Linked DNA regions of Homo sapiens: regions 1 and 2 are each linked to region 3. A link means that fine-mapping ties the variant in region 3 to the expression of a gene that starts in the linked region. Tissue or cell type: whole blood. Region 3 holds a variant in brackets; each other region holds the start of a gene. All regions are shown on one strand. Distances are between the middles of the regions.

The links. PIP is the estimated chance that this variant, and not a neighbour inherited with it, causes the effect.
Region 1: it holds the start of ATP8A2, and the variant in region 3 is fine-mapped to the expression of ATP8A2 in whole blood (TOPMed, PIP above 0.99). The same link has a PIP of 0.9 or more in T cells and blood mononuclear cells.
Region 2: SHISA2 starts here. The variant in region 3 is fine-mapped to the expression of SHISA2 in whole blood (TOPMed, PIP above 0.99). The same link has a PIP of 0.9 or more in T cells and blood mononuclear cells.

What each region holds. Positions count from the first base shown.
Region 1 is chr13:25,368,089-25,376,194 of GRCh38, reverse strand. It overlaps ATP8A2 (ATPase phospholipid transporting 8A2), which reads right to left and starts at 4,221. Exons shown (of 37, transcript NM_016529.6): 1 at 3,907-4,221. The coding sequence starts at 3,982.
Region 2 is chr13:26,047,842-26,055,947 of GRCh38, reverse strand. It overlaps SHISA2 (shisa family member 2), which reads left to right and starts at 3,932. Exons shown (of 2, transcript NM_001007538.2): 1 at 3,932-5,306. The coding sequence starts at 4,973. It overlaps LINC00415 (long intergenic non-protein coding RNA 415), which reads left to right. Exons shown (of 2, transcript NR_146971.1): 2 at 3,276-3,672.
Region 3 is chr13:25,967,603-25,975,708 of GRCh38, reverse strand. ATP8A2 (ATPase phospholipid transporting 8A2) reads right to left here. Exons shown (of 37, transcript NM_016529.6): 35 at 7,030-7,134. LOC105370122 (a long non-coding RNA gene) reads left to right here. Exons shown (of 3, transcript XR_941764.3): 3 at 1-129. Among named protein-coding and RNA genes, the nearest start is that of SHISA2, 80 kb to the left of the region's middle. RefSeq lists enhancers at 218-756, 757-1,296. The variant G/T (reference allele first, on the strand shown) is at 4,198.

The DNA of each region.
Region 1 (8,106 bases), 600 kb after region 3:
AGAACCACACTGGACTTGCTAATTAGCTTGTCCTGACAGAAATTAAGCAGCAAGTAAGGAATTTCTCCGAATTTTTTTTTCATTTGTAAAGTGAAGGGATCAGACCATCTCTGAGATATCCTCCAGCTATTACATTCTCACATTAGCACGGCTTGTATTTTCAGCTGCCCTGATTCTCCTCCTTGAAACTTGGGGCAGGTTGTTCTGGCAAAAACAGAAAACACACATTAAAAAATACCTTTGATGACCAGCAGAGGGCAGGGTGAGTTGGGTGTGGAATTTAGAGGAGGGCTCCAGGGGCAGTTTCTAGAAGGTTTGTAGTCCTGGTCCAAACGGTGGCTCACGCCTGTAATCCCAGCACTTAGGGAGGTCGAGGTGGGTGGATCACGAGGTTAAGAGATCGAGACAATCCTGGCCAACATGGTGAAACCCCGTATCTACTAAAAATACAAAAATTAGCTGAGTGTGGTGGTGGGAGCCTATAATCCCAGCTACTTGGGAGGCTGAGGCAGCAGAATTGCTTGAACCCGGGAGGCGGAGGTTGCAGTGAGCCGAGATCACACCACTGCACTCCAGCCTGACGACAGGCTCAAAATAAAAAAAAAAAAAGAATATTTGTAGTCCTCTGGGTTCTGCACTTGGTCTGTGCACTTCCTGCCTGCCCGTTCTTTCACTAAGTCCAGAAATGCGGTAAGATAGGGAAGAGCTTCTGCCATAGACAGCACTGATGCTGTCGTCCATAGAAAACAACTTCCTTCCTTTCTGTCCCCACTCCTCCCCTCCCACAACCCCCAACACCCATATTCACATGTACACCCTTAATTTCCTTACTCATCTGGGTCAAGGTGAGAGAAGAGAGTTGAGAGCTCTTCCCACGTGCACTGTAGTCACTGCCTAGACCATAAGCTCTGTGAGACACACTGCTGTGTTCCCTGCTCTGTCTCTAGCACCTAGAACCATGCCGGGCACATAGAAGGCACTGATATATATTTGTCACTGACTTTGTTTCCATTCTAAGGGGCTCCACCCTGAGCAGACTGTAAGCACTATACGGGCAAGAGGATCCCCATGGTCACAAATCTTTGGATTTTCATCATTTGGTAAAATGAGACACACTGGCACCAAGTAGATATTTGGGGAAAGCTAAAACTGATCAAAGTGCAATTGAATATGCAGAACAAGATAAGAGTCAAAGATGGCTCAGACAAGAAAATATTCCAGAATTATTTTTAAAAATAGTATACAGCTCAGCATATACTCTTGAAGCTGACTGTGATCTGCAATCCTTTCATCATTAGTTTATTTTTTAATAATGAGAAGTAGCAGACTTCACTAAAAATCACACATCTTTGTTTAGTATTTTTATGGGAGTACACGATTGTCAGGCCCTCTGCCCCTGTTTCCATCAGTGTCCCCAGGAGCCCACACTATGCAGATCCTCTTTCTTCTCCATACATTATGCAAATACCCTAAACAGGCCCCATCTCAGAGCCTCCACTCTGTCTCCTGGAACTTTCAGCCTATCATCAGCAAGATCCCTCACAACCCGACCCCTCTGACTATTCCTGAAACTTCTTGCCTTAACTGCTCTGCCAGGAGGACCCTGCTTCTCACGGTTACTCTCAGATCACTGCCTTCCCCCCTGCTCCCTAAAAGCTTCCTGCGTTGATGTTCATGCCGTCAGACTGTAGAACAGTCTCAAAACAAAGCGACCTCTCTTGAACTCACATTTTCCTCCAGCTACCACTCGATCTGCTTCTCCCCCTGCCTTTTCTGCAATATTCACTCAAAAGAGTTTTCCGGACTTGCTGTTTCCAGTTCCTGTCCTGTTACTCTTACACCTGCTCTATTAGGCGTTCTTCCCCACAATGATATGTTAACAGCTCTTTTCAAGATCACCAGTGACCTCCACTTACATGACAGTTCTCCAGCCTCATCTTTATTGAGCTCAGCAGCACTGGGCACAGGTACACCCCACCCCTTCCTGAACATCTCCACACTGAGTTTCAGAGCACTCCCTCCGGGTTTCCGGGGACCTCCCTGGCCATCCTCTCAGGCCCCTTCTGTTGACCCTCATCTCCCTAACCTCAAAATGTTAGAGTGCCCAGGACTCTATCCAAGGACCCCTCTTTTCTAAGTCACATCTGTACACATTGACAGCTGATCACATAATTCTTAGGGGCCCGTGTAAAATGAAAAGGTGGGCCCCTTGTTCAAAAATTAAGACTTTCAAGACAGCAACACTGGGCAGAACATCCAAGCAAGTGCTGACTCTTGTAAGAGCCAGACTCTGAGCAGCTGCAGGGCATACACTCTTGGAGCCGGTCCTGCCGACGACTCTTGAATCTCTATGTCTGGCCTTGCACACTCCCCGGAGCCCCAGACTCATAAATCCAGCTCTCTACTAATCATCTCCTCTTGGATCTATGGTAGGCATTTCAGACCAAATTCTTCACACCCTCCCTTACCGCAAAAGAGAACCCTGGTCCTCCGCAGTTTCCCCATCTCAGCAAGGGGTGCATTCTTCCGGTGTCTCAGACCAAAACCCTTGGGGGCATCTTTGATTCTTTTCTTGTACTGAAGCCCCACATCCAAATCATAAGCAAATGCCTTTGGCCCCACCTGCAAAGGTACAGAGGGTGTCCCCAGGTCTCCTCAGGCTGCCTCCACCTTGGGAAATTCTCACACCTGTATGACTGCGCCCTCCCACTGTCTCTCTGCCACAGCTCTTCCCTGCTATTTAGTCTTGACCCTGCACCCCGTGACCCCTTCAGGCTGGGATTCTCCTCAAAATGAATGTGAAAGTGTCCTGACTTTACCCAAGTTTAACAAACATTGGCTTAAATTACCTGATAAGCTTGCTTCCCTCTCACGTTACTCAACTACAGAAATACAAAAGTCGCTTATTTTTATGTGCCTATTTTCTCAAAACAAATAAAAAAGCACGAAGACAAGTGACCCCAGCTCCAAACTGTACACCCTCTACCTTCCTCATGTCAAAGATCTACCTGCAAACTTGCCGCAGTCCTGAAACGGTAAGAAATCATTTTTGGGGCTCCTCTTTACGTCTGCATTAACTAATGGTCTAGGTAACCCTATCAAGTGTCATAGCCACATAACATCCAGCTCCACGACATCATAGTTTCTAAATGTGTTCTATAATCATAGAACGCGGGCCTCTAACAGTGTGAGTGGTCGGGTATGGTACATGCGTGTTTGGCTTTAGGTTTCGAGTTCCAACACCCAGGCGCCTGCAGGCAGGGTATGTGTACGCGTGCGTGTGTACGTGTGTGTGTACCTGTGTGTGTGTGTGCGCGCGCGTGTGCGTGTGTGTGTTCGTCTCCAGATGGTTGTATGCACGGATGGTTATGAGCCAGTACGTCGCCGCTGTGAGCGCGCGAGGACCCGGGGCTCCAAGTGGTGAGAATCACTCGAGGGACCCTTCGGATGCCTTTTTCCCCCTCTGCTTTTGAGCTCTGCAGCACAGCGGTGCCGGCCGCCGGCAGGGAAGGCTGCATCTTCTCTGCGCCGCCAAACCGTGCCCACCATCGCGGTGACTGCCGCCTAGGTCGCATCCCTGAGCCGCATCCGCGCGTAGGGGCGCACGGGCACGCGCACAGGGAGGCCGCACACACACACACACATCTGTACAGGGACGAGCCGGGGGTCTCTGACGCCCGCCGCTCACCTCGCCCCGGCCTGGAGCCTTTTGGCCCCGCAGGTGCAGCGACGCCCAGCCCCCGTGCGGCCAGCGCGCCGCGTCGGCGGATCCTGCAGCCCAGAGAGCCCAGGGAGCCCAGGGAGGGGAGCGGGGCGCGGGCGGGGCAGTGTCGCATAACCGCAGGCGCGCCCCGCGCCGCCCCCGCCCCGGGCCCACCCTCCCTCGCCGCGCCCCTCCCAGCTCACCCACGGACGAGCGGATCCTCGACCTCCGCGGCAGGGACATCTTAAGAGCTTTGTCCAGGCCTGCGCCGTTCAGCATCTCGCCCGTGTCGGGGGCTCGGCGGCCCCGGGCGAGAGACGGAGGCTACGCGCAGGGCTGGGCGCAGGGGCCGCCGCCCGAGGACCATGGGTGGGCCAGCGCCTCGCCGGGCTGCTAGCTGGCGGGGACCGCCGGCGCCTGTGCCGGGCCGCGCCCGAGGCTGCGCCGTCCGTGCCGCAGCGGCCAATGCGGCAGCATCCGCGAACGCCACCGCGGCGGGCCCCGCTGGCCCGGGCTGCGGCGTGGGGGCGGGGGACCGGCCCTGAGCGGAGCCCCGCGGGAGGAGGAGCGGACGGGAGGCTGGGAGGGATCCGCAATATTACGCAGGACCGGGGCTTTTAGGTGTCGGGGAAGGCGATGGGGAGGGCTTGGTGGGGTGGGAGATTGGGCCTGTACTTTCGGGGGCTCTTCCAGGAGAGGGGTGCACCTGGGGGACTCGGAGTCTCTGCCTGTCTGCTACCTATTTACCTGCCTGTCACTTGTCCTGTGCAAGTGGAGGCGCTGTGATTCCCCAGGACTCATCCAGTCCCTTTCTTTTCGCAGTTTCTGTTCTTCCGTGCCCAGCCTGGTGGGATCTGTGTAGGGACTTCGTGGAAGGGTTATTTCCAAGGTGTCTGATGTGTGGCTTGGCACTCAGAGAAGTCGGGGGTCTCCAGCCCCCCACTCTCCACAACCTGCCTGACATTCTAACTACGCATATTAAAGCTGCAGGTAGCCCTAGGGAACCTTAACAGCAACCTTCTCAACCCCCGCACGCACACACACACACACACACACCCATCGACACACACACACACACACACAGACCCATCGACACACACACACACACACCCATCGACACACACACACACACACCTTCTTTCATAAAACAAAACCATCGAGAGGTAAGATGACTTGTCCAAGGTCACTTGATCTATTTTTTGTTTTTTCTTATCGCGTAATGTTTAGACTGTGCTTGGTCTTTCTGGGCACAATCCCATGAAGATAAGAAGCTATCTTTATTGTGCCTGATGACATTCTGACCTCGGAGTAAAAACGGAACAAAACAAAAATAAAACTGTTCAGGTGAAAGTCTGACCTTGCTTTTACTGATGCGAGCATTACATTTCTTTTAACCTAAATTAACATTAGGGACTGACAAGGAGTAGTACAGAGTTCAGCAAAAAGAATCTGTGCTAGCAAAGACAGCAGTGCGGCCTGAGCTCCTCCTGCCTGGCCTCTGCATCTGATTTTATTTTCTTTTACTTTTTTTTTTTCTTTGACAGAGTTTTGCTCTTGTTGCCCAGGCTGGAGTGCAATGGCGCTATCTCGGCCCACTGCAACCTCCGTCGCCCGGGTTCAAGTGATTCTTGTGTCTCAGCCTCCCGAGTAGCTGGGATTACAGGCGCCCACCACCACGCCCAGCTAATTTTTGTATTTTTAGTAGAGACGGGGTTTCACTAAGTTGGCCAAGCTGGTCTCGAACTCCTGACCTCAGGCGATCCACCTGCCTCGGCCTCCCAAAGTGCTGGGATTACAAGCGTGAGCCACCACCCCCGGCCTCTGCTTCTAATTTTCTTAAGAACAAACATCCAGGCCGCGCGTGGTGGCTCACGCCTGTAATCCCAGCACTTTGGGAGGCAAAGGCGGTCAGATCATGAGGTCAGGAGATGGAGACCATCCTGGCTACCGCGGTGAAACCCCGTCTCTACTAAAAATACAAAAAAAAAATCGCCGGGTGTGGTGGCAGGTGCCTGTAGTCCCAGCTACTCGGGAGGCTGAGGCAGGAGAATCGCTTGAACCCAGGAGGTGGAGGTTGCAGTGAGCGGAAATCATGTCACTGCACTCCAGCCTGGGTGCCAGAGTAAGACTCCACCAAAAACAAAACAAGACAAAACAAAAAACAACATCCAAAGGGACAGGCAACTTACACTGAAAACTGCAGGCTGGCAAGAATCTACACTAAATGTAGCTTCAGGTAGGATTCTTTACCTGTCTCTTCTGGGCCCTCAAAAAATTTTTCTGATAAGAAATGAATCTTTATCAGGAAGATGAATCAAAATAAAATTTTCTAAATTGTTGAGCTAAGCTTCAGAGTGGGAGAGGTTTTCTCAGTGGATCTTCATTGCTGCTGAGGATAAATCTTAAAGCTGGGGCTAATCCTAGGACTGGATTTGTCAAAAACTTGTCACTATGCTTCAGTAAATCTTCTGTCTATGATAACACCTTGAGGACCTAACCAGAATTGAAAGGAACTTAAAAGGAAAATGTGGTTTTTTTCAATCCCCAAACTTCAAGATAAATAGAAAACATTTTGGGTTTTTTTGCTCTGACTTAGGTGGGAATAGAAAGAGTAGATAAAGGTTATTTTTAATTTTTAAGAAGCAGAGTATGTTATATATAGAATATTTGCCTTGATCACTGAAGAGTGACCAAATGTCCCACCCTGACTTTGTGCAGCCCCATCATGAAACAGAGTTGTTGCTGCTCTTTCTATGTTTATCTTCCAATAACCAAACTGCCCTGACAGCTTTGTAGGTGTGTGAAATATACCTCAGTTGGTGCACCTTGAAGATCACAGCATAGACTGCAAGGAGCAGTAGGTGAATATTTCACAGCAACTTGTGTTGTCTCTTTGATGTCTTGGTTAATTCCCCTGATCTGACTGCCTCTTGGAATGTTGGGGAGATCAGTAGGTTGGCATTGGCCAGAGTCAGACCTAAATCCCATCTCTGAGGTCTTCAAGGGAAATATATGCACAAAGGACAAAAGCTAGCAAATGGACAGTATTTATTATTATGCTTAGAATCCAGTGCCGATGTGGATCACCCTGTGACCCAGGCTTGGCTTGGAGACATCCTTTCACCCTTGCCAGAGGCAGCCTAGGTTAGAACCAAAGGAGATAAAGAAGCCTGTGAGGAGAAACAGCAAACGCAAAAGGCACCGCAACCAGGACAGTCAGGGAAATGTGCTCTGTCTGTGAAAGCAAGAACTCCTCAACAAAGAGAGTTTGCCTCAATTCTTAGAGCCACGACCCTACGCGTTCACAAGACAGGTAGAAAGGCAGCCTGCAGCCCCCAGTAGGAGCCACACCAAGTCCCTAGCACTGTGGGTCGATGAGTGTCATTGAACTTAACTAAGCCAGAGCAGCCCTTTCCTCCTGGAGGAGGAAGTGAAGGGAAAGGGAGAATTCTTTTTCTTTCCCTGAAAGGCAGCTGTCGTCATCCTCTCATTATTCTGTGTGCCCCTCTCCTTATGCAATAAGTTGAGCCAAGACAGACTGATCTCCCAGGAGAGGATCCGACCCTCCAGTGCTGTGACGGCACAGAGGCTGCCTCTCCCTTTCCCGGTGATTCCCAAGGAAGGAGAGGCCAGATCGCTTCTCTTGGCAGCCCACTCCAGTGTTCAAGAACTAGTGTTTTGAAGCAGTTTGTCCTCTGAACATCTTAAATTTCTACTATTTTAACTTAAGCCTATCCTTCCTTTTTAGTCTTCATGGTCCTAGAAAACAGTCAGTTGGCATCCTTCTCAAGAAGTTCTTTTATACAAACGAAGACTTCAAGCCATCTCTTAAGCCCTTCTTTTCCTCAAACTAAAAAAGCCCCATTTCCTTTTTAAAATGCTTATGTGTGCGTCTTTACCTTTTATATCTGTATACATATATGTATATATGTGTAAACATTTTATCACTTTTTTATTTGAGACAGAGTCTCACCCTTTTGCCCAGGATGGAGTATACTGGTGTGAACATGGCTAACTGAAGCCTCAACCTCCTAGGCTCAAGCAATTCTCCTCCATTAGCCTCCCAAATAGCTGGGACCACAGGCACGTGCCACCACACCCAGCTACTTTTTGTATTTTTTGTAGAGACAGGATTTCACCATGTTGCCCAGGCTGGTCTCAAATTCCTGAACTCAAACCATCCTCCTGCCTCACCTTCCCCAAGTGCTGGGATTACAGACATGAGCCACCGCATCTGTCTACATAAACACTTTAAAAAGAAAATGGCATATAAGTAGCATGTTAAAAATTATACGTAAGCATGTACCAATCATCCTTGTACCTGTTCTCCTGTTTAGGAAACAAAGCAGTATAGGCCTGTTGAAAGCCATTTGTGTACTCACCCCTAATCCCTTTCCTTTCCC
Region 2 (8,106 bases), 80 kb before region 3:
AGGGATCTGATTTCCCCACAACCTTACCAACATTATTTCCCATTATCATTATCATTACTATTATTGTCAACCTAGTGAAAGTCAAGTGGTATCTTGTGCTTTTGATTTGCATTTCTCTAACGTCTAATGATGTTGAAGGTGTTTTCATGTGCTTGTTGGCCTTTTGTAGATCTTATTTGGAGAAATGTTTATTCAAGCCAGTTTTTTGGTTGGGTTGTCTTTTTGTTCTGGGTTGTAAGAGTTCTCTTATATTCTGGATATTAGACTCTTTTCGTATATATGATTTGCAAGTCTTCGCACATTTTGCTTTTGTTTATGCCATTCTTTTAGATAGGAAGGCATTAGTGAAATAAGCCCTCCGTGAAACTCCATATCTCCAAAATGGAAATATATCCATAGTAAACATCAAAATCAAAATTAAAGGGGGTTCAGTAAAACAATGGAGTAAGGAGGGGGGATGAGAGAGAACTATGTCAATAGTTTATAATGACAAATGAGAAGAAATATAATTGAAAATATGGAAATTACTTTTCTGGAAGTCAGTATGTCAATTACAATAAAAATAAGGAGGGTGAAAAATTAAAACTTTTAAAGCAAGAACAATTTTTTTTCATAAATTTATGAACATTTTTGAACATAAGTTTAGGTAAACAGAAGACAAAATTAAAATAAATGTAAATTAATATATTTGTTTGGGTTTTCACAAAAACACTCTAACTTAAAAGAACTTTTGGTAAACCAAATGCCAATTTTCAGTACTATTTCTATTTATGAGAGAAGAGGAGAAAAAAAAATGAATGAACCCAGTGAAAGCCATTCTCCCTAAACAGACTGCTGATGGATGTGCAGATGGTAAGAACCTTCTGCTCTTGCTGAAACTTGCAGAAAAACACTGTAGATCTTGCAGCTTTTAGAACTGCCAGCCAAATGAAATATTATTACCTCCATCTGATTTGTATCAACTCCAGTTAGTAAAGTTGTAAGTAATCATTTCTTTAGTTATATGACTTGCTATTTGTACTAGTGAAGATATGTCAGAAGTTTGCTTTTAAATCAATTGGATTTTATTCATATATATATTTATATATATATGCACAGGCACATACTGAAAGGCAAAATAACTTGAAAATATACTTTTTCAGTTAGTGACTATAGAATTCAACTTTTTTAAAAAGAGGGCTGCACTCTTTCATATGTTTTTCAATATATTTTGGCAGACTGCCTAACATTTCATTTTGATTATCATAAATTATGATTACTACTACCTATATGTTGTAATTACTAGTTATAGCTTCTCAGAAGAAACGAGTGAAATAGTTTTGGTTGTCTGTTAAGACCAATGAGGGAATTTCTTTTTATTTCCTATGGAAGGAACAAGCCTATTTTAATATCTCCCAGTGGCACCTCCCATGCAGAACCTCACTAAATACTTGGCAAGTTATTTTATAAAATTTCAGTTCAACATTCCAGATACACAAAGAAACGATAATACAAGAGAGACAAAGTGACATAAAGGACCTTTCAGCATTGAAGACAGTCAACCACTACGTAAAGTAACTATGAAAGGGCCTCTCCTTAACTTTTAAGGAAGAAAAGAAACACAGTAATTAAAAAAAAAAAAAAAGACGAATTTGCTCAGAGCGCCATACTTCTAAGTTCACCAATTATAGATTAAATTGTAGACTATTTGGCAAAAACATTGTGTTTTAAAGGTGGCACTATCCAGTCACCAAATCAATTCCAATATGAAATGTTAAACAATTTTTTTTCTTCATAAATAAACTCTGACAAATTGTGGATGTTTTGGTGAGTAGGATAAGTGGATCCTGGAAGGAGGTTATAGGCATAGGTACTGTCTGAAATAATACAATTCTAAATAGAACAATAAGTACAATTCTCTCGCATTAATTGTTTTTCCAAATGGCAAAATTGAAAGTATTCACCCTCTGAACACTACCCAAATCAACTCGTGCTGCCATAGGAGCATCTCATGATCTGTACAGGACTCCCAGTTAATCAATCCTGGGCTTTCTGTAGTGGCGGCTGTGGTGATCAGCAGTGCGGTGAGTGGGGTTTGGAGTCAGGAAGAATTGGGTGCAGTCCAGGCAAACCGACGCTCTCTATCTTTAGGGATTGAGCAAGTATCCTCACCAGTAAAATGAGGATAGTAATACTGTCTTATTTATAGGGCTGATGTGAGGATTAAATGAAACCATGCACATGAAATTCTTAGCGTGGTGCCTAGCCCATAGTAAGCTCTCAATAAATGTTGGCTAATGGTGTCTTCTAAGAAAATGACTCATTCTGAAAAACTCAATCTTCCCTTGGCTTCTTCTGGTCTCTTTTTAAGTGTTACTCCTTTGATGATTTTTCTGACCTCCTTCCCCACCCTAACCTAGATTATGTGCTTAAATTGATGCTGTTCTCATTGTGGGTAAGAGCTTTGATCATACTTGCATTCTCTTTGCTTATTCAGTTCTTTGTCTTTTTGTCTGATTTCTGTATTTTACCCTGGAGACTTTAGGCCCTATTTGAAGGAAATGGCCATGCTGTCTGGCTTCTTGATGAGTCCCAGTACCCAGCACAGAGCACAGTACACTGTAAGTGCATGGCGTGTATTTCTTGAATGAATGATTTCTTGACATTGAAATTTTTTTTAGCTTACTAGCTTAAGACATTTGGTGAATAGTGCATTTAAAGTATATAATTTTGTGTAGCTTAAAACGATACACAACCAAAAAACTGCAAGAAAACAAAGTGCAATGCTTGGAGAGAGGTTTAGTGAAAAGAATAAGGTGTGTGTTGGGGAGCAGGGACATAGGGTAGGGTTTTTTTTCTTGGATTTGACATTGTTGGGGCAAGTGGAAGAATAATCAACAATGTCTGAATCTTCACATTAACCAGGCATACACAAGCATCCAATGGCTGCTTGAACCTGAGTGTCTTTGCTGTGAATAAAACTGCCTGTGTTCTGAAGTCATGGACTTGAAAGGGACCTTAGTGATCGTCACATCCTATGCTCCACTTTATAGATGAAGAAACTGAGACCAGAAAAACGCAGTGATTCCCTGCTAGTAGGGCTGGGTCTAGAATTCAGGTCTGCTGACTCCCAGACGGTGTGGGAAGGGGCATTCGTTCCTTTAAAAATAAGCACTGCTGCTTTAATAACATCAGCACCTGTTGTTCCAGCTTCTGCAAGAGAGAAGCTATTAATTTCTCCTTCATCAAAGCTGAATTTCTGGTCTGTCTGAACCTTGTTTTCTTCCTGACTGCAGCTGTCTAAACCACTAAGGCCACATGTTGGACGGAGGCACTTTCCTGCTGGAATCCGATAAATCACCACACCCAAATATAGAAAGAAAAAGGGACACAGATCATCCACACCGTGGCCGAATGTGTGACATCTTTGCTGAACTCTCTCCGTTCCACCTTGTGGTGGAGGCCTCCAGTCCACCAAACACAGCCCTAGGCGTGTGAACCCTGCCACAAACATCGGTGCTCTTCCTGCACAGGGCCTGGGACCAACCGTGGCCAGGACATCAGCTGCTGGAAGCCGAGAGAGTTCATCTGAGTGGCGATTTTATGATCTGCAGAGTGGAAAGTAATCATAATCCCTTGAGAAGTTTGCAGAATCGAACCGAATGTTGAATGCCAAAGATCTTCACAAAGCAAGTTGAGTTTCTTCCGTTATTATTGTTATTTGTGTTAGCGAGGCCTGGATTGCTTAGGTTGGGTTTCCTCCCGCGCCTATTCCAGCAGGCAGACCCCGCCCTTGGCCACACCTTTCTCCTTGCCCGGGGTAGGAAAGTGAGGGGCTGCCCGGCGCCCGCGGGCGTCCCTGAGGTCGGGGGTGGGGGGGAGCCGCGCAGCGCGCATGCGCGCCGGGGAGCCGCCGGCCTCTATAAGAGCGCGGCTCAGCGCGGCAGCGAGCGGAGTCGGAGCTGGTCTGGCGCCGGGCGGGGCGAGGCGAGGCTGTGGGCGGCTGCTGCGCTCGGCTTCTCCCGTAGCCCGGAGGAAAGAAACTTCCGTGGGAGGCTTCCATCGGTGCGCACACCTCCCGAGGGCGAGGCAGCGACCGGGAGAGGGAGAGCCGGCCGGAGGCTGCCGGGCTCCTGTGGGACCGCGCTGCAGCCGGGGAGGCGGAGAAGGGGAACCGGGGCGAGCCGCCCGCCTGGATCCGCGCCCAGCAGCAGCCGCGGCCGCCGCCAGCTGGGCAGGCTCCCGGGACTGCGGCTGGGGGCGCGCAGGACCCTCGCCTGCGTCCTGGACGTTCCCGGGGTCAGGAGCGCTCCCTCGGCGACGTGCTGGGAAGATTGGCCGTCGGCCCCGCCGAGTGGAGCGTCGGGGCTGCACCCCCGTGGGCTGCCCGGGCGGCCCGGCCGGAGCCATGCGGACCAAGTTCGGGGCAGAGGAGGCTGAGCGCGGCCGGCTGCGTCACTTGCTGCCCAGAGCCTTGCGTGCACTGCCCGCCTTCGCCCCTTCTACCCGCCCGAGGAGGGAATAAAGGAGGGGAGACGGGCCCTGATTCGCGCGCGGGACCCTGAGGCTTAAACCCTGCGCAGAGCCCTGGCTCCAGGTCCGCGGCGGCGCGCCCAGCGGTCATTCGGCTCGAGTGAGCATCCCTTCGGGGATGCTCAGGGAGGGTCCGGTTGCCAGTGAAACCTCCAGAGGCTTCCGGACGACAGCCCCGGGGGCCTTCTGACTGCATCCCGAGATTTCCATCAGCGAGTGCAACTCATAAGGCAGTCCCTAAGGGGACCGGGCCACCGGCTGAGGACGGGGATGGCTTAGGAGCTCCTGGACCTAGGGCCCGGCGTCGTCGCCTCCTGGGCGTCGCGGCAGAGGGGAGTGGCCCGCGCGGAAAGCGCCGCGGGACAGTCAGTGACGAGGCCCGGGGGTCGCCGGGGCCACGACTTCTCGGAGACCGTCCTGCGCTCTCTGGAGACGCGCTGTCCGCGCCCAGGGTGGTGCCATGTGGGGCGCTCGCCGCTCGTCCGTCTCCTCATCCTGGAACGCCGCTTCGCTCCTGCAGCTGCTGCTGGCTGCGCTGCTGGCGGCGGGGGCGAGGGCCAGCGGCGAGTACTGCCACGGCTGGCTGGACGCGCAGGGCGTCTGGCGCATCGGCTTCCAGTGTCCCGAGCGCTTCGACGGCGGCGACGCCACCATCTGCTGCGGCAGCTGCGCGTTGCGCTACTGCTGCTCCAGCGCCGAGGCGCGCCTGGACCAGGGCGGCTGCGACAATGACCGCCAGCAGGGCGCTGGCGAGCCTGGCCGGGCGGACAAAGACGGCCCCGACGGCTCGGCAGGTAGGGCGGCCTGCGCCCAGCGCGAAAGGGAGGACGGTTGGCGTTGCCTGGACGTCAGGGACCTGGGAGTTTGAAGGGGGGAAATTCAGGAAAGGGCCTAGGACCAGGAGGCGGAGTCTGCCTTCTGGCTTATTATTTGGTCGGTGTGGGTCCCTAATTCACCCTCACGGGCCTCAGTTTCTCCATCTGTCAGCCAAAGGGTGGCTTAGAGTTAATTTTCCGAACAAAATCACACTCCTAAGGCAGTGTGGGCCACAGACAGCCCCCATATTCCTTCTGACCAGGGTCCTCCGGGCCCCTCTGGCGTCTCCTGTCTCCATAGGGCTTCATGTCTTAGGGGTACCCAAGGAGACGGCGAGGGTGCGCCCCCACCCGTGAGGGCCTGGCAGCGGTGCTCCCCTGAAGGCTCCCCGAAAGGAAGGCAGCTCCTCAGGGCTTTCCCGGGGCTGCTGCCCCGTGCCAGACGCCGCGGATTCCCATCTTCTCCACGCGGCGGCCCCTCTCCCCTGCAGCGGCCCGCCTGTGGGGCTTCTGGACTGTTTTCCTTACCACGTCAGACTTAGTAGGTGTAACATCGGAGCAGTGCCCAGCCTTGCTCTTTGTGGCTTTGATTTTTTTTTTCTTTCAAATTGCCAAAGCCAGAGTTGGAAAGTAAACCCGTGAAAGAATTTGGTAGGTTGCACTTCACTCTTCAGAAACCTTCCGGAATGCCTCCCTGGGGTGTCTACACCAGTCACTCCGTGTGTGTGTGTGTGTGTGTGTGTGTGTGTGTGTGTGTTATTTATTTCGGGGGAGGGGAGGTGTAGAGGTAAAATGGCAAACGTGTCCCCGAGGGGGCGGCTCCTCCTCTTTGTGGGCCCGTTGTGTTTACCTGGGAGGCTTTTCGCTAGCATCCTGAGCCTGGGTTCGGGCTGCTTGAGCTTTGGCACAGCGTAGTTTGTGTTTATAGAGCTGCCTCCCAGGACCTCGTGAGAGACAGCTCTTTTCAGTGCCGTTCCCTTTCGCAGTCAAGCATTTTATTAGCATGCTACTCCTATTGTTCTGCTGTCTTGAATCTGAAGAGAGCGTAATTCCAGAACCAGCGCAGTCTTAAAACGCAAGCTCAGTCTCGCAGACTGTGTGGCCATGGAAGAAAGCCCAGAGAAGGGAGCCAGACCCCGAACTGCTACAGTGAGATGTCTGCTAGATTGGGCTCATTAATGGTCTCCAAAAAGTTGGGATGGCTTTGGATTAGTCGGGACTTCTCAGGACGAGACTTCTCATGACGCCCTGTGTTGTGCATGGATGCCTTCTTCATGCTACTTTTAAACGTTTTTTTCCTAAAAATTGTATTTCTTTCACTTTTCTTCTGCAGTGAAGGGCAACATGCCTAATTAAGCCTGCCGGGGGGCTTATAGTAGCGTTACATTCCTTATCCCTGTGTAGTTATTTACATTTCCAATTAAAAATCCTGGAAAGAGAACACTTATTTCTCCCCAAAACTCATTATGTGGACTGAGGCTGGTTTCAGCTAGTTTCTGCTATGATTGGGGTACATTTTTTTTCCTGCTTTACTACTATTAATTTATTTTTTGATAACATATTTAGGGCTGGTGTCTTAATTTAGAGAATGAAATATTTATAACACGCCAAGGAAAAAGCCTGCATCCACTTCTCCAGTGATCCGTAGTTAGCCTGAAGTGATAGTGTAATTAGGACAGTTCTACTGCTGGGCGCCAGCTGTGCTGCAGACACTGTAGCAAATGTTTCTACCTGCTAAAGGGGCGCTATATATAGAAATTGCTCTGTTCAGCATTGAAACTCCAGGAAATATTCCACAGTCAGCCTTTGGTTAAATACCTATAAAGTATTGTTTTACTTACAGGGCATTATTTCTCCATAATTCCACCTGGTATTATACTTTAAAAACACTGACTCCAGCAATACCAGAACAGTGAAAAGGAGCATAATTAGAAAGCCCGGCTGCTCTAATGGATGATGAAAGGGTATTCATAGAGCTGACCTCAAAGGCGTGGTCTCCTTCCTAAAATGCTGCCCCATCCGACTCTGGGCTGGCATTATGCTTTGCCAAGACCAGTAAGACCCAATCCACCCCTGTGCTTATGTATTTCCCAAAAATATAGCCAGGAGGTTGGGGCAAGAACACATCAGAAAATGCAGGCTCTTGGTAACATAGGGTAGAATTCCACAAAAGTGGCTCAGAGGCATTCTGCAGGCACCTCCCATCTGATTCTGTCCCTGTCAACCTGCGTCTATTTTCTAAAGCCTTGTAGTGCCCTCTCTATGGCTCCTAAAAGATTTTTTTAAGAAACTAATTTTATGTATTTATTTATTTATTTGAGATGGAATCTCAATCTGTTGCCCAGGCTGGAGTACAGTGGCACAATCTCGGCTTACTGCAACTTCTGCCTCCTGGGTTCAAGCGATTCTCCTGCCTCAGCCTCCAGAGTAGCTGGGATTATAGGTGCGCGTCACCACACTCAGCTAAATTTTGTGGTTTTAGTAGAGACAGGGTCTCACCATGTTGGCCAGGCTGGTCTTGAAGTCCTGAGCTCAGGTGATCCACCCACCTTGGCCTCCCAAAGTGCTTGGATTACAGGCGTGAGCCACCGTGCCCCGCCAGAAACTAATTTTAAAATGGAGTTTGCTAGTGGTTTTATCAAAAGGTTTTTATTTTTACTTTTTATGGTTTTCTATTTTAAAATCAGCTTCCCGGGTGAAGTGTGATGGCCGTTGCTTTATGCTCTGAGGGCTTTCCCTGTGTACTCTTGCCTTCTTGGCTTGCTGTGGGTGACTCTTC
Region 3 (8,106 bases):
CTGGCCGAATCTTGATAATGATTGGACCTGGGCAATGATTTCATAAGAGCTTATTGTGCTCATCTCCCTACTACTATGTATGCTTGAATATTTGAATAATGAAAATAAAACTTCTTTTTTTTTTTTCGAGATGGAGTCTCACTCTGTCCCCCAGGCTGGAGTGCAGTGGCGCGATCTCGGCTCACCGCAAGCTCCGCCTCTCGGGTTCACGCCATTCTCCTGCCTCAGCCTCCTGAGTAGCTGGGACTACAGGTGCCCGCCACCACACCCGGCTAATTTTTTTTTTTGTATTTTTAGTAGAGACGGGATTTCACTGTGTTAGCCAGGATGGATGGTCTCCATCTCCTGACCTCGTGACCTGCCCGCCTTGGCCTCCCAAAGTGCTGGGATTACAGGCGTGAGCCACCGCAACCGGTCGAAAATAAAACTTTTAAAATGAGTGTTTTAAGGGAAGCTCAGGCTGCCATCAGCACAGCAGGGAAGTTGGTGACATCAGAGAGTGTGTCCTGAGGTGGACGGCATTTGTTCCCAGGACAAGGCCTGTCCTGCTGCCCCTGAGTAGCCCACGTGTGGCCCAGTGCTTGGGACACAGTGCAACACCATCGTATAAAACCAGTCAATCAAGAAGAGCCAAGGGTAGCACCAACCACAGAAGGGCACAGCGTGGGGAGGACAGGGGAGGTGGAAGCTGAGGGTCGCACACGTGAGAAGAGAAGCAGAGGCGGAAATCACTGTGGTTCTGGTCTGCACTGGCTCAGCAGGTGGTGGGCTGAGGGCAGAAGGTGGCATGATGAGGCTGTGCTTCACAAAGGATGTCTTCAGCTGTGGGATGGTGGGTGAAGAGGGACAGGCACCACCCCAAGGGACCAGGGGGGATGACTGTGCAGATGCTGGGAAGACGCCGAGACCTGGCACCCAGGGATGCGCAGGACATGAGGGGACAGTGTGGACACTGAGAGCGAGTCTGCAGTGTGGGAAAAATTCATCCCGATGGAGCAGGAGACTCCGAAGGAAGGGCTGGTTCTGGGGAGGAGTGGCAAGGACCGGCATAGACGTTACAGACAGACTGCAGCTCAGATGGACAGGGGTAAGCTGGCGAGAGATCCTGGGGCAGAAGGGACAGCCTGGACTGGGTACACTGTCCTCTTCACAAAGAGGAGCTCCTTGAAGCTGTAATCCAAAGGCTGTCTTGAGGAGACCACCAAGATTCAGAACTCACTACAGTCCCCACCACACCCCCATCCAACATTCACTACGGCCATTCGTCCACACCACTCCCATGTCCCTGGGATTCTGTTAGATTTCTCCCTTTTACCTCAGACTAGGGGGCACACCCCGACGATGCAACTCGGAGAGCCTGCTGCATTCACATCTTCCCCAGGCTTACATGTTAGATGGTAAACACGGCCAGTGAAATGTACTTGTTATGCAGCTTTTCAGTTAGGGGACGCTTCCTGAACATCTACATAGGCTATAGATTTAATCTGCATTATTTATTTAAACCTCAAAGCGAATGTATGATGAGAAAACTGAAGTTCAGAGAAGTTAATAACCCAGCCAAGGCCACACAGCTAAGCTAGAGCCCAGCTCAGGTCATCTGTCTCCGCCGTCTGCACTCGCTTCTCTGCTTCATGACAGAGCTGAGGAAAAAAAATGCAGCTGGAAGGAAAATAAATCTCAACCAGGTGCTGGAAGCAGACATTTGCCACCTGGCCTGGAGAGGTTTGCTGAAAGGATGCCCTAATTTCCTATCCTTTTGGCTGGAAAAAAAGCCAATAATAGGTATTTTAGGAGGAAAGTGTGGGAGAGGTGGGACAAAAGCAAAAGGGAGATGCACCACATGTGCACTGCCAACGGCCAGTACTGTGAAAAAACCGATTTCCTGAAGTGACGCAGTCATTGTTGGAGTCCGGTGCAAAAGGCCTGCATCCCTCCTGCCTCAGGCTGGCTCAGCGACATGCTCAGCCTGGCAGTGGGACTGATTTTGACTTAGAGGTGTGATGATACTAAACAGTTTTTTCAACACTGTTTTAAAGATCAAAGGATTTCCGTTAAAGATCAAAGCATGACAGGTATTTTTGAGTTGAGTACTCACTCAGAATGCATTCGGGAGTTTGTGTTGTTTCATTTTTTTAATACGACTGGTTTTCAAAGGAGCACTCGAGAGCACTGCCTGGAGTGGAGGAACAATCTTTGGTTTGTCTGAAATCTTGCTGCTGTGGTTCAGGCTCTGTTCCTATTTTTCGGCAGAGAGAGCTCCATTAGGATCCCAGGCCACCTGTCCAAGGCTGTGACCAGGGCCCTGCCTGTTTAGAGGCAGCCTGGATGAAATGGAAGCCGCAGAGCAAGAGTCAGGTTTCCCTCCTGAATTCCCTGGCGGTGATGGGCCGTCCAGATTACCCCGGGTCACAGGGCCACGCACAGATGTTCACAGAACACAAAACCGAAGGGAGACGAGGCGACGGCTCGCCAGAAGGTTTAAGACCAGCCACACAGCTACCTTCACCAAAGTCACAGCGTAAGCTACACCCAGGGAAAGCACTTAAGGGGAAGATAATCCACTGCCTTCCTGGCAAAGGCAGGGGCAGCAACCGGGTCTGTTTACCCTTGACAATGGAGAATATCAGCCCTGGGCTCACCCCACCCCACCCCACTCCCACCAACTGGGATGAACAGAGTGAAAGGTGATCTAGAAATAGAACAAGCTCTCCTTGTTTATTCAGGCTATGCATAACTCAAAAACTAGATGTTTTCAACAAATATATTCCCCCTTTTTTTTCTTGCTTGCCATTGTACCTAAAATATTACAGGGCAACCACTTATCTCATTCCAAAAAAAATTAAGGAACAAAAGTCTGTCATCTTACACGCCGTCATCGGTTTATATTGTATCTGTAAAAGTGAGTGGCCACAGATAGATTTTCTTTCACCAGGAAAGAAATTTGCATGGCTTACACTTCAGGAATAAAGAAAGGAAAGATATTACCAAGACATTAAAAAACAAAGAATTTTCTTCCATTTAGCTCCTCATTGTTTAGACACTCAAAATAACGACATGCAGGGTAGACTATTTCATGTGCGGTGCGGGGGGGTTCCTGCTTCCCCAGGTAGGGATTACTGGGAAGACAGTTTGGGAAAAGGTATTCTGATCAACCCCAACAGTCACACGTGTCCAGTGTCTATAAGGCGCACAAACACCACATCGTGAAAAACACTCCTTCAAGAAGAACAAACTAAAATCAAGACAAACATTTTATTCACTCCCTAAAGCACTTTCTTCACTGTGCTTTCTGGATATCTAATTCCCTGATCTCACCCTTTCTCATTATCTGCTTCTTCATGAGAACAGGCTTATTAAAGTATCAATTCCACAGGTTGATTTTGGAAGACAAGATCTACTAATGAGAAAGTGCAGAAGCATGTTCATGAAAATTTAACTTTATCAAAATAGTATAAAAGTATGAGGCTTAGACAAGTTCAATAAAATGTTGGATGAAAATATTTTATTGAATGAATAAAAGGCACAGAGAGAAACTTAGAATCCCTGGCTACCATTTCAAAATTGTAATTGTAAATTTGGTACAAGAGGGTTTTCTAAAAAGATTAATGCATACAGATTTTTTTTGTTCTACTTCCTGTGGTTACATTCCTAAGAAAAACTGCTAGAATATTTGCCAGTGACTTGGACCTGGGTTTTATGACCTGGCAGAATGTCCTTTAAGGGGCCCTAAGCAATGCTGTCAGGACTGAGCTGAGTAAGCCCCTGGGGTTAGGGATGCTGAGGACCCCTGGGGGTGCCCTGGCTTGGCTGGCACAGGAAGGCAGGAGAGGGAGTGGGTTTCAGGGAGGATGGGCTCCTGGCCTGTGCATCTTTGCAAGGGTAAGATTTGCTAATCTTACATCACAGATGCCTCTCCATGTGTGAGTCTATGTTAGCTGTACTCTCAAGCAATGAGATAAACTGCCCCCTCCCTGGAGGCCCGGTGACTGTCAGCATCTCTCTGTGGCCACTTTGTGCACATCCGACACACGAGCTGACACACAGGCACCAGTGTGTCAGCTCATCTGGCACTGAAGTCACCGTCCTTTCCTCACTACCACCTCACTAGACTTTGGTATTGCCAGTCAGTCAGCCAGCAAATATTGACAGAGTTTCCTGTGCGGTTAACAGCTAGAGAGATACACAAATCAGCTGAAA[G/T]ATCAGATGAGGGTAGGAAAGAAGGAACAGGGAGGGGTGAGAAGAGACAAAAACACTCAGGACCCCTCAAAGAGGTGGGGGTCTATAAGATCTTTAGAAGGGAGGACAGAGCTGAAGACAGACTTCTTAGTCTCTACCCTCCACCCCTCAGGAATCTAAGCAGGTGTGAAAGAAGAAAACAAAGGTTGTAAGAGAACAATTGTGAGGCAGCTTAGGAGGCCAAGCAGGACAGCATAGACTCTGTGCAGAGAGCAGCACGCCACCATTATCCAGTTTGCAGATGGACCACCCAGAAAATCTGTGAGTAATTAGGAGTGAGAAAAACAAATGGGAGGGGGTCACTGAGGAGGATGAGCGGCAGAGCCCCCAAACTGTGTTCTGGCTAGGAATTCCAAAGTGAAGCAAGATGCTGGGACTAGAAGAAAAGGAAAATGGTGCAACCAAACGGGAGTATGCAGGCCCACCCGTGCATGTGTGCGCGCACACGTGCACAGAAACACACACACACACCCCATCATATGAACTACAAAGTGAAATTTACAAGGAACCAGAAAATAAGACTTTCAAATGTAGACGGTAGGAAACCGCATTTAAGCTCTTATTTTCTGATATCCATTTGAACATTTAAAAATGAATTTTGAACAGGATAAGTGAATTTTAAAAATAACATTCATTTATCAACAACAAGCAAAAATGGGCTCACACACTCTTTCAAGGCTGACAGCCCACGACTTCCTTCAATACAATTCAAGGCCGACAGCTCATGACTCTCCTGCCAAAGTGAAGATGAGCAGCTGACCTTTTACACACCTGAGATGGGTCAGGCAATATGCTGCGTTGTACATATTTCACGAACCTTAATCCCCCAAAGAAAATATTAGCCTTCTTCTATGACAGATGAAGAGACAATCTGATCATATGAAATATCCTGCACAAGGCCTCACCGGTAGGTAGCAAAGCCAGAATTCAAACGCAGGTTCTGTATCTCTGCAAAATGCATGTGGCCCTCCAAACTGGGTGGTTGGTCCCTGCACACAGTGTTGGACCTGAGCCTTGGCATGTGCCACTCCCTCTGCCCAAATCAGACTCTCAGCAGTTCTGTCCATTCAAGACCCTCCCATCCTCAAAAGCCTGTTGTTCATCCATCTCCAACATGAAGCCTTTCTTGATTGCTCAAGCCAGATGACCCCTCCCCACATCAGAACAAACACTCTAAAGCACATTCTCACACCACATTATATGTGATGTCGTCCTGTAAAATGTTTGAGAGGAGTTTGAGAGTTTTGCTCTGAAATTCTCATTTTACTTAGAAATTACTTATGCCCCCTCAGCAATCATTGTGTATACTTGATATATAAGGGAGCCTGTAAGTTGTTTCTAAGTATAATAAACTTATTGTCCTTACTAAACTTAACGGTTAAGAGTGATATGCATTTTATAGGGTTTTAAACATTTATTAATTTCATTATGCAATGTTTCCTGCTCCCTAATTTTTGGAGCTTATGAATATGTTTTTTTTCAGGTCTCAAAGAGCACGGTAGGTCCCTGAAACTCTAACAGGTCCTGAGCCTTATGCCTCAGCTGTCTGATGGATAGAACAGCCCTGAACAAGCCTCAACCACGCGTAGTGGTTATATGTACATCTGCGGTAAAATCAGCCCCCATCCCCATGTATTCACAAACTTAAGCTTATGGAAGACAGTGCTTTTTGTCTTGTTGACTGATGATTTTTTACAGTGGCTAGCATAGCTGCTATAAAATGAATGCTTAATAAACTTACTAAAAAATAACTCATAAATAAATACAAAACCACAACTTCAACTCTATGCCATCATCCCTTTTCTAAAATCTGTTTGAAATTGTATTTTGAAAGCCTCTCAAAATGTTTGCATTCTCTTTCTTTAACAAAAAAATTATTTTGTCTTCATTGCTTTAAAAGATGGTACAAATAAACACAATATAAAGCAAAACACAAAGTGGGGACCTCTATAAGTATTTGATTTCTTGATGTTTGTTTCATTAGCAGTTGGTTACTGATTTCCTTCTAAGCATTTATAGGAGAGCTGTACTCAGAATATTATAGATATTCCATGTCCTTAATAGAGCAATGGCTTTCTAGTACCCTGCAAATTGTTCTCAGGCCCAAAGAAATTTCCCTTGATGGTACATAGATTTTAACAGAGTGCACTCTAACAACATTTTAACATCTTGTGTGATGAAACAAAAACTGCACACAGACCCAGCTGTTCCTTGTGGGGAAGGGCAGGCTCATGTTCAGGAGGAATTAGGAGAGCAAGCGGCAGTGTCTGTTCCAGGAGTTCACACGATTCCTTTCACTCCCAGCAGAAAATGTTAGCATTAAAAACTACTCCCCCATTTAGATATGCTGAAGTGGAATGTAACAGGTTTACATGAATAACAACATGCATTATTTCACATGCAAACCTTCACACTGTAGATACTCATCCTTGGGTACAGTACTTGGGTTTGAAATTCAAAGGCCTAGCTTTAACTCCTCTGTGGTAATACTGCTAACTCTGGACTCTTCCACCTTAAGATAATACTGCCACAACATCGATTTTCTGCACATGAGTTGTTTTGCTCACTTCTAAACCCAATAAAACCCCCAGTCTTACCTGGAGACTTCCAGAGATTTAGGTTTCATGTAGTCACTGAGAGTGTGATTTAAATCTGAGAATAACCAAAATTCTTAAGCCTGAGCATACTGTGCTCCCATCGAAAACCAAGATGAGAAAAAGAAATACAGGAAGGAATAAGGGAAAAGGGCCGGGAGCACCTGTGTTCTGTGCGGACTGGGACGGAGTTCCCCACCTCTTTCCATTGCTATCCCGCAGCACCGCTTTTCCCAGGACTCGAGACTTGGTTTCCAGCTCCTGCACCTCCTCCAGCAATGTCTTTTTGCAGGTGTGCTTGGCTCTGTGTTATGAGGAAAAGACAAAACGAACATGGCATAGAGACTTGACACAGCTGGGAAAGACAGGCCGCTCCCCTCTCAGGCCACAGCCAAATGCCCTTTGGTGGAGGCCGAGGCTCGGGAAGTGGTGGAGCTTTCACAGTCTCCATGCATGACCCAGGTTCCATCTCCACAGCCCGGAAGTATCCTGAGTGCTGCAGACCAGACCCGGATCATGCATGTCAAGAGTCACCCCCACCCCGCAAAGAACCGGAAGTCGGCCGAGCAGCCCAGTCACTCAAAGACTGGGTGGGGTTCACGAAGACCCAGGGTCTACCTCTACAGCATTTCTTGTCAGGAACTGAAAACCAAGAAGACACTTTAAACCCTCACCTTAGTGAACAGGCACTGGTTCCCTGGTCCAAGGACCCCAACTGCAGTCAGAGAGCCCAGGGGTTAGCAAGTTTCCTCCCTCCCTCTTTAGCGTGAAAAGAGCCACTGCCACAGCAGCCACGGGGCTTAGGATGCTAGAGTGCATGGTCTGGATGCAAAACCAGAGGCTTGAAACGTGGAGTCAACACAAATCCAGAGTGCAGGTTTCCCATCTTCCTCTGGCAACAACTCACCATTGGAGTCCACACACGCAGGCCTCAGTGACATTAATACAACTTATGAAATAACCCGCAGCCTGGACAGCTCACTCTTCTTGAATGGTAGGAAGAGTTCCCTCTACCCTTTTACTGAGGACACTAAGATGAATACCTCACAATGCTCAAATAATTGGCCAATCTCAGAGTCTTTATAAAATGAAAACTAAACTAAGCTAAAAGTGAGCTACCAGTTGGAAACAATCTAGCTACTAGTTGGAAACAGTCTAGGTGAAAAGACATTTAACCAGATATAGGTTATATAAGAGAAAAAAACTGCAAAGGGAAAAGGCTCAAAAATTAGTAACACACCAGACTGAAAAGCTTTGCATCGGTTTAATTTAAATA